3 separate regions of the Homo sapiens genome follow, and all the other regions are linked to region 1. Evidence: fine-mapped expression QTL. A gene starts in region 1. Each other region holds a variant in brackets. All regions are shown on one strand. Distances are between the middles of the regions. Region 1 holds the start of COL4A4 (collagen type IV alpha 4 chain). Region 2 overlaps COL4A3 (collagen type IV alpha 3 chain). Region 3 overlaps COL4A3 (collagen type IV alpha 3 chain).

The links. PIP is the estimated chance that this variant, and not a neighbour inherited with it, causes the effect.
Region 2: its variant is fine-mapped to the expression of COL4A4 in thyroid (GTEx, PIP above 0.99).
Region 3: its variant is fine-mapped to the expression of COL4A4 in skeletal muscle (FUSION, PIP 0.95).

The regions. Positions count from the first base shown.
Region 1 is chr2:227,162,823-227,165,586 of GRCh38, forward strand. It overlaps COL4A4 (collagen type IV alpha 4 chain), which reads right to left and starts at 1,383. Exons shown (of 48, transcript NM_000092.5): 1 at 1,185-1,383. It overlaps COL4A3 (collagen type IV alpha 3 chain), which reads left to right and starts at 1,802. Exons shown (of 52, transcript NM_000091.5): 1 at 1,802-1,991. The coding sequence starts at 1,905. RefSeq lists enhancers at 710-1,611, 886-985 and silencers at 1,256-1,635, 1,856-2,035.
Region 2 is chr2:227,226,634-227,229,397 of GRCh38, forward strand. All of the region lies in intron 1 of COL4A3 (collagen type IV alpha 3 chain), which reads left to right. MFF-DT (MFF divergent transcript) reads right to left here. Exons shown (of 14, transcript NR_102371.1): 11 at 1,848-1,999; 12 at 1,137-1,259. Among named protein-coding and RNA genes, the nearest start is that of COL4A3, 63 kb to the left of the region's middle. The variant C/A (reference allele first, on the strand shown) is at 1,110.
Region 3 is chr2:227,190,205-227,192,968 of GRCh38, forward strand. The region is part of intron 1 of COL4A3 (collagen type IV alpha 3 chain); the gene reads left to right. Among named protein-coding and RNA genes, the nearest start is that of COL4A3, 27 kb to the left of the region's middle. RefSeq lists an enhancer at 519-1,718. The variant G/A (reference allele first, on the strand shown) is at 1,448.

The DNA of each region.
Region 1 (2,764 bases):
GATTCTAATGCACAACGATAGTTGAGAATCACTGGCATAAAAGACAGAAAGAAGACTGTAAGATTCATGCTATAGTCAAAATAAAAAGAATGGGAGGAGTGTCTTCATTCACTGTTAGGGTTTTGCCTACCTGCATGGCTACAAAGTTCTAAGATACCAATAGATCCCAAATTTAACTGCAAGCAAGTGGTTCCCTAAAATCAGTGACCAACTGCATGATCATACTTGGTGTCTGAAGCCAATTGCAGCAAATATCAGCAACACTGTTCCAAAGCAAAGATTCTTAACCTGAGGATGGAATTCAGGTGATCTGTATAGGAAACTCACATAGGAAAATAAGTTGCATCTTTACTTTTAGTAACATGTCACAGAAGTTCAACATGTCCTTCCCTTATGAGCACAGGCAACAGAGCACAGTAGTATTGGCAGTTCTTGATAATTTGCACCCACCGGTATTTTCATGTCACATTTCAGTTTGGGCTATTATCTCAAAATACCATTTGCAGACATCACTACTTTGACATTACTGTTGCTTAATCGGCCTGCTGTTAAATCAAGCTATTTAATGCAATAATGATGATGCACCTGTGTTAGTTACTATATCACGACTTGAGGACTTCCATAATTGCATTCCAATAAAACTGATTCTGATTTAATTGTATTTTATGCATTTCACAACATTCTTCTGAGAAACAGTCTAATTGCTTTACCAGAGCCAGTGTGGTCCGTAGCACAGGAAACGGCGAGAGCCGGCTGGAGGACCGTGCCCTGGCACATTTGCATCGCAGGCCACCCCCAGGAAGAGCGCACCCTGACCAGAGCTGAGTCTTGTTTTGCCCTGCATTTCCGCAGATAAGATTTGGCCTGAAAAGCAGTTCAACTCAGCGGAGAATAAGATGGGCTTTCTCTTTCTCCTCAGCTGCCTCTTTCTCTTGGCATTTTGGAGTGCCCCGACTGCCAGGCCGGTAACTCGAGCCTCCAAATTAATCAAAACACACAGCACCCAGTTAAAGCCCAGGCAGACAAGCCCAGGAGCCAGACGCGCTCTCCTCTGGTGACCCCCGGGCCACAACTCCCCAGCTGGGCCCGCCACCACCCCTTGAATGCCACGCTCCCTCCACTGCCCCTCCCAGGCAGGTGCCGGGGCCCCGGGACAGCGGTTGCCCCACCTATGGGCGCCTTACCTGTGGGGACGCCCGCAGCGCCAGGAGCTGCCGCCTTGCCACCCCACGGGACGCGCACCTCCAGCCCCAATCCACCCGCGCCCCGCTGCCTCTTCGCGGCGCTCTCGCAGCCAAGCCCGGCGGCCGCAAGTTGGAGGCGGGCTGGAGGCGGGGAACGCGGACCGCCGCGGGCGCGGGGAACAAGCGGGGCCTCCCGAGTGCAGACGCCCGGCGCGCCTCCCGCTTAATCTGGGCAGGGCCGCTGGCCACTCCCTCCACCCTGCGCAGCCACCTCCCCACCGCGCAGCCACCTCCCCACCGCACACCCCCAAACGCCCCACCTCCGACCGCACCCCACTTCCCCGCCTGGGCCCCCGGACCTTGGGAGCATCACCTCCTTAACCCCTTACCCTGGATCCGCGCCCACCTGCCCCTCAGGCGCCCAGCCCTTTCTCGCCTCCTGGGCACGATGCCCGGGTAGAAGGGACACTGCCTGGTAAGTTGGGAGGGAGGGGGTATGAGGGCGGGACCTGAGCCACGTCTTCCCTCCCTTGAAGCCACAACCAAAAAGCCTGGGTGGGGAGGGACGAACCGCGCGACCGAGCCCTACAAAACCCGCCCCGGCCGAGTGGCGAGGCGAGCTTTCCAGCCGGGCTCCCAGAGCCGCGCTGCGCAGGAGACGCGGTGGCCTGAGAGCCTGAGGGTCCCCGGACTCGCCCAGGCTCTGAGCGCGCGCCCACCATGAGCGCCCGGACCGCCCCCAGGCCGCAGGTGCTCCTGCTGCCGCTCCTGCTGGTGCTCCTGGCGGCGGCGCCCGCAGCCAGCAAGGTGAGTGGGGGCTGCGCGACCCCCACCCCCGCACTTCCATCCCTCCTCCACGCGTCCGGGGGACGCGCTGGCCCCACCCGCAGCGGCGCGGTAGTGGAGCGGCTGCCGGGCTAGTGGCGAGGCTGAGGGCTTCACGCAGGTCCCGGGACAGGCAGCGAGCGGAAGGGAGCAAGCGGGGATGCCCCGGAACAGGTGGAATGCGCGGGGCTGGGGGAAGAGGCGAGGAGGGGGCTTGTCCAGTGCCTAGGAGTCAGGGATGGCGGGGACAGGCCTCCAGAGGTCAGTAAATTAAAAAATAGACACATAGATAATCGCCAGGGATGATACGTGAGAACACCGGATGTGGAGATGCACGGTGTCACGCTGGTGAATCAAATCAAGCAGCTTGGCCCAGCGCACAGAGGGCTGGCAGGAGACACCTGCAGGGAGTCCCAGCCGCCACTTCCTAGCTGGGACGTCACACTAAACCCTGACCTCTCTGGGGCTCAGTTTCTTCCTTGCAAAACTTGCCCTCCAGTTTTCCTTTGCTATTGTTGGGAAAAGCAAATGCTATCACTGAAAAATTAAGAGCACCTTAGAAATCGAACTCAGGTTAGAATCATTTAAGCAATCTGACACTTTGATTTGATTTTTGACTTGGAATTTGAGTGAAACTGGATTTATTTAAATCCATCCCATATTTCTTATTCTTTGCCATTAAATAGAAATTGATTGTCCTCAAAACGATTGTGCCTCCTAGAGTTGACTCACTTGATTTTACCTTGTGAAAGTAA
Region 2 (2,764 bases), 64 kb after region 1:
TAATTTTTGTATTTTTAGTAGAGACGGGGTTTCCCCCAGTTGGCCAGGCTGGCCTTGAACTCCTGACCTCAGGTGATCTACCTGCCTCGGCCTCCCAAAGTGCTGAGATTATAGGCATGAGCCACCGCACCTGGCCTCTATCTTAATTTTTAATGCAATTTTTATATTGCCATAGAAAAAATATAATGAAGATAATTTGTACCAGGAATCACCAAGCTTTTCCCATAAAGAGCCACGTAGTAAATATTTTAGGCTTTGCAAGCCAAGAGGCAAAATGAAGGCTACTATGCAGATACCTATATAACAAGAGAGAAAATAAATATCCACAACATTTGTATTGATGAAATGCAAACTTATGGACATTGAGATTTAAAGTTTATATAATTTTCACATTACAAAATGTTATTTCTCTCTTAATTTTGTTTCAACCATGAAAAATATAAAAACCAGTCTTAGCTCATAGGCCGGATGGAAACAGGCAGAGGGCTGGATTTGTCCTGCAAGCTGCTGTCTGCCAAGTCCTGCATTATACAGCTAATTTCATGAGCTACTATGTTATGTTTTTCACTGGGATTTTACGTCCCATCATGAGGGGCACAGTGATAGGGTGAGAGGGGGAGAAACATACCCCTCCTCCCCCAGTGCCTTGTGGCCAGCAGAGCCCGTCAATAATGAAATACAGGCCGGGCACGCTGGCTCACGCCTGTAATCCCAGCACTTTGGGAGGCCGAGGTGGGTGGATCACTTGAGCTCAGGAGTTTGAGACCAGCCTGGCCAACATGGTGAAACCCCATCTCTACTGGAGAATCATTTGAACCTGGGAGGCAGAGGTTGCAGTCAGCCAATATTGCATCACTGCACTCCAGTCTGGGTGACAGAGCAAGACTCCATCTCAAAAAAAAAAAGAAGAAGAAGAAATGCAACACTGCACCTGAGAATATGACTGACCCTGGGTCAGACTGTCTCACCTGAATTCAGATCCCCACTCCCCATGTTCCTTACTATCCTTAGCCTCTCAAAATCCTAGGTTTCTCATCTATTAGATGGAGCTTATAACAGTACCTCCCTTACAGAATTGTTGTAAGATATAATGAGATAATATGAGACAG[C/A]CAGCACTGAAAGTGCTCAAAACATACTGAGATCATTACAGTGCTGATGGAAGTTCATTTCCTCTACCACCATCCTGATCAAGGGATCCCGTGGAGCCTATTTTTCTTACATGAATAGTGAAGTTTTCTCAGTCTTTCTGCATTCAAAACCTTTTAGGGGGTAAAAAGAAAAGAAAAAAAAAGGAACCTGGAGTTAATGATTATAGGTATACTTACCATTCTCTGCATTGCATAAGACGGGCAAAATTTTCTTACCATATTATTTATTCTCAAATGTACCAGAGAGCCCTCACTGCACCGTCTTTGTCAGAGTTAGTAATCTGTATGCTTGCTGTCATCCAGAAAATCAAAAACGGGTGGCTGGCTTACATGTCTAGACTAGTGATGTGTCTCTGGACGGGAGTTGAGGGATAGGAAGTGGCAGCTGCAGTGAGATTTCTTTGATGTCCAAGGGTGGTGACAGCAGCTTCAGGGCGGGGCAGGCGGGGGCATCCCGCAAAGCAGTCCATGGGTGTCATTCTTCTTCACTGGAGGGCATGGTGCCAGGGCACATGGTTGGTTGCTTAAGGCAGACACGGGCAGAGGCGGCCCTGCAGAGGACAGCTCGTGGCGTCTGTCTGGCACGGTTTGGCTATACTTGGTCAGCTCTTCTTTTCACACACAAAAACTTTCCCCTCAGGCTATTGGCTGGGCAGAGGGACTGGCAGGGTCAGTAATCATAATGCAAAATCAACAGACCTGCTCAGTAGGGTGTTAACCAGCTGTGAACGGTGCCAACTCCCCCTGCTATTAAACCAGGCTGGGCTGGGCTGGGCTGCGGGAGAGAGATTGGAGAAAGGCAGGGCAGGCCACGTCTGTTTCACCAGCATGCACAGGAACGAGCATGCTGGCTGTTGACAGTAGAGAGAGAAATAGTCAAGATTATTTGGAAATTATGTTCTGGTCTATTAATAAAAATGCATGTGCATATTTCCTGATCCTTTTAACGAACAATAAAAATGGATGTGTTTAATGAGATCCTTCATGAGTTTTAAGGATAAAAAGATAATTGTTTACAGTGCTAGGGGGATATAAGGAATTGTGAGACACCGTTCCCACCTGCAGTTTAGGGAAAGTGATAAACCCTCAACTCAGGAGCACCTAATGATCCATGTCAAGTCAATGAGTTAGTAACAGCCTACAGTAACAGCCCTCAGTGTATCCTATGAACTCTTCTAAGGGCTTACCTGTGCTAACCAATCTGACCCCATTTCACAGATGTGGAAACCGAGACACCTGAGACTGCCTAGACTCACAGAGGTGAGGTGGCAGAGCTGGGATTTAGACCCAGGAAGTACGTCTCTGGAACTGGTGCCCTTCACCCTGTACCACTTTGCCTCATAAGAGAAAGCGATGTGCAGGTGAGACATGGGTGGCACACGGGCACTGCGAGAATTGAGATCAAGAGAAGAGTGTGAGACCCAATTGATCCGCACTCCTGGAAGGCTTGCTGCCTTTGTGTAATATATTTGATCTGGCACCTTTCTTGGATAAGCATCAAGTACCATTGGGGTCTCTAACCAATATTTTGTTAAATAAAACATTGTAATGTGTCTGTGCTCTTAGGCAAATGATATTTGGTTAATCAACCAATATAGTCAGTGTACTCTAATAAT
Region 3 (2,764 bases), 27 kb after region 1:
AAATGCAAGGCACATGCAGGTCCCTCAAGAGCTGGAGGTAACTCAAGAGAGTGATGCTTCTCCCTTACTGCCATCTTGGCGTGCCTGCTCCATGATACTATATTTCCTCTGCTGGCTCTGCAAACATGCCTTGAATTCCATTTCTTGCAGATCCTGACTCCCTTTTAAAATATGGACATGCATGATGCTTCTCACAACAGTCTGTACCCATTCCTGAGGAACTAAAATGGAAACACTTCTACAGTCTGAAGCAAACACATAAATAGATATGTTTTATATGTCATCTAGGAATATATACATATCAGTTTATTATTTCGGATCAAAATATGTAACAGAAGAGGGACTTTGTGTATTCTTTGAGGTTGAAATGTATCACTAATTAAAACAAAGTGTATTAATTATTTTCTATTATAAAAGTAATAGGTAGTCTGGGCATCGTGGCTCTAATCCCAGCACTTTGGGGAGGCCAAGGCAGGCAGATTGCTTGAGCTCAGGAGTTTGAGAGCAGCCTGGCCAACATGGCGAAACCTCGTCTCTACAAAAAATTAAAAAATTAGTCAGGCCTGGTGGCACACACCTGTAGTCCCAGCTACTCAGAAGGCTGATGTGGGAGGATCGCTTGACACCAAGAGGTGAAGGTTTCAGTGAGCCAAGACCATGCCACTGCACTCCAGACTGGGTAACAGTAATATGTCATAACTAATGAAAATGTGCAAAATTCTGAAAAGTTAAAAGGAAAAAAGCAAATCATAGTTTACTACTTAAGGACAATATCATTAATGTTTTTAGCATCTTCTTCTAGCACTTCTATTATGTATAGAATTTTTTAAAAAATAGATGCAAAGGTTATTATATATGAAATTTTATGTCTTTTTTCTCTTAAAAATAGACTACATAAATAATACGTATATGGCCATGGAAACAATTTTTGACATTTAAATTTTCTCAACCACTTTGCTCTTTTTGGATACTTGGGGAATAACAAAATTTTTATTATTATAAGTAATACTGCTATGATCATGCCAATGACACTCTGCTTGATTTGGAAGTACATTCCTCGTACACATTCCCAGAAATGGATTTTTTTTTTGTAAAGGACGCAAAAGTTTAAGACTGTTGGCATATACAAAAGACCTATTTTCTGAATTCAGACTTTAGGCAAAAACAAAAAATTTAAGTGGGTGAGGGGGCAGGAAGAACAATAAAGAAAGCTAAGAAGTGTTTTGAAAAGCAGTTCACAAAATCACTCTTTACCAGCCACATACAAATGTTGAATGGCTCCATCCACGGTGCATTTGTGGAGCTCCCCTGTTGGCCATTCCCCGCATCAAGGATTCAAAGAACCTGCCAAGGGGCTGCAATGGGAGATTACAGTGACTCAGCAAATCAGGATGATCAGATTTCAAAGTCGGCCAAATAACTCATCTTGGAGACAGATGTAGCTGAA[G/A]TTTTACATTATGGCCTGCAAGAAACTTTATTCTAATAAAAGACAACTGTGTTTACAACTACTGGGCATATCTCAGGTTACCTTAAATGAAAATCATTTTCTTATTTTTGTAATTATGAAGGCTAAAAATAAAGATTTTTTTCATAATTAGTTTCTGGAACGCTAATAATAAGAAGAACTTAGAATATTACAGATTCTCTTACAAAACACAAAGACCTTGGAATAAATTTGGCAATTTCTTCAACAGCAGTGCCCTTATCAAAAACAGACACTTGAGAATTGTGGAAAGGGAAAAAAATTATCGAAGGAAAGTCATATTTCCTTAAATTTCTCTGTGAATGTGTACAGTGAATTTCTTCATCTCTAAAGCAAATCTTTAAAAAGGAAGAATTTGCTCTAAATTCAAGCATTCATTTTTATCTCTCTGTGCTCAAGTATTCATTTTTATCTCTCTTTGCTTTTGACACAGAGTATAAACGGTAATTATACCATCCAGTTGCAAAACGTCATTGAAAAACAGATGGTAAATTAATCCCAAACAATTATTACTCCAGGTTCTGACTATCAATTTTGTCTTGAACAGCTTGTCTAAACCTAGTTATAGAATTGTGAAGAAGGCTAAGTTTGTGTCTGGTTGTTGTCTTTCTCCCCTACCATTTTATTAAATATTTAATTTCTTCATGTGCACATAATGCTTTGAAATGTTAGATGTGGTTTAGCACACACTATCATATTTGACTTGCTCATTTCATTTTCCTCAGACCCTGACCAGGGCAGGATGAAAACCAACCTTTTCATCTCTACCCTCTTTTCATCTCAGCTAATTGTGGAATCAAATGATGCTGTATACATAAATGTGAACCCCTGTCCCACCCTTGGTATTGGGGCTTTGAAAGTCTTCAAACCCCACCACAATGGTGGTTGTATGGAGATCACTTGACGGTCTCATGTGCCCCAAGTCCTCAATCTCTGCAAGTGTCCCTTGGGACTTTGCTCAGTGTGTGTTTGTGGTAGTTGTTGTAGTGAAGGGTGGGGAGAAGGTTAGGGGTGTCCTGGAGGGCAGGGAGAGAGGTTTCATTGTCCCCTGGGGAGTGAGTGTGAATCATGAATGAACAATCCTTGACGAATCGAGTCAACCCAAATAAGAGTTTGGAACAGTGTTTCTCAAACTTTCTATAGTGAAGAAAATTTTGTTTTGTTTTTACATTTCCATTATATTGTGAGCCAATACTTTCTTAAAATATAAGAATAAAAAATTAAAAGAAAATGAAATTAAAAGATATAAAATATAAGCCCAAATATTTTAATCAGCATAAA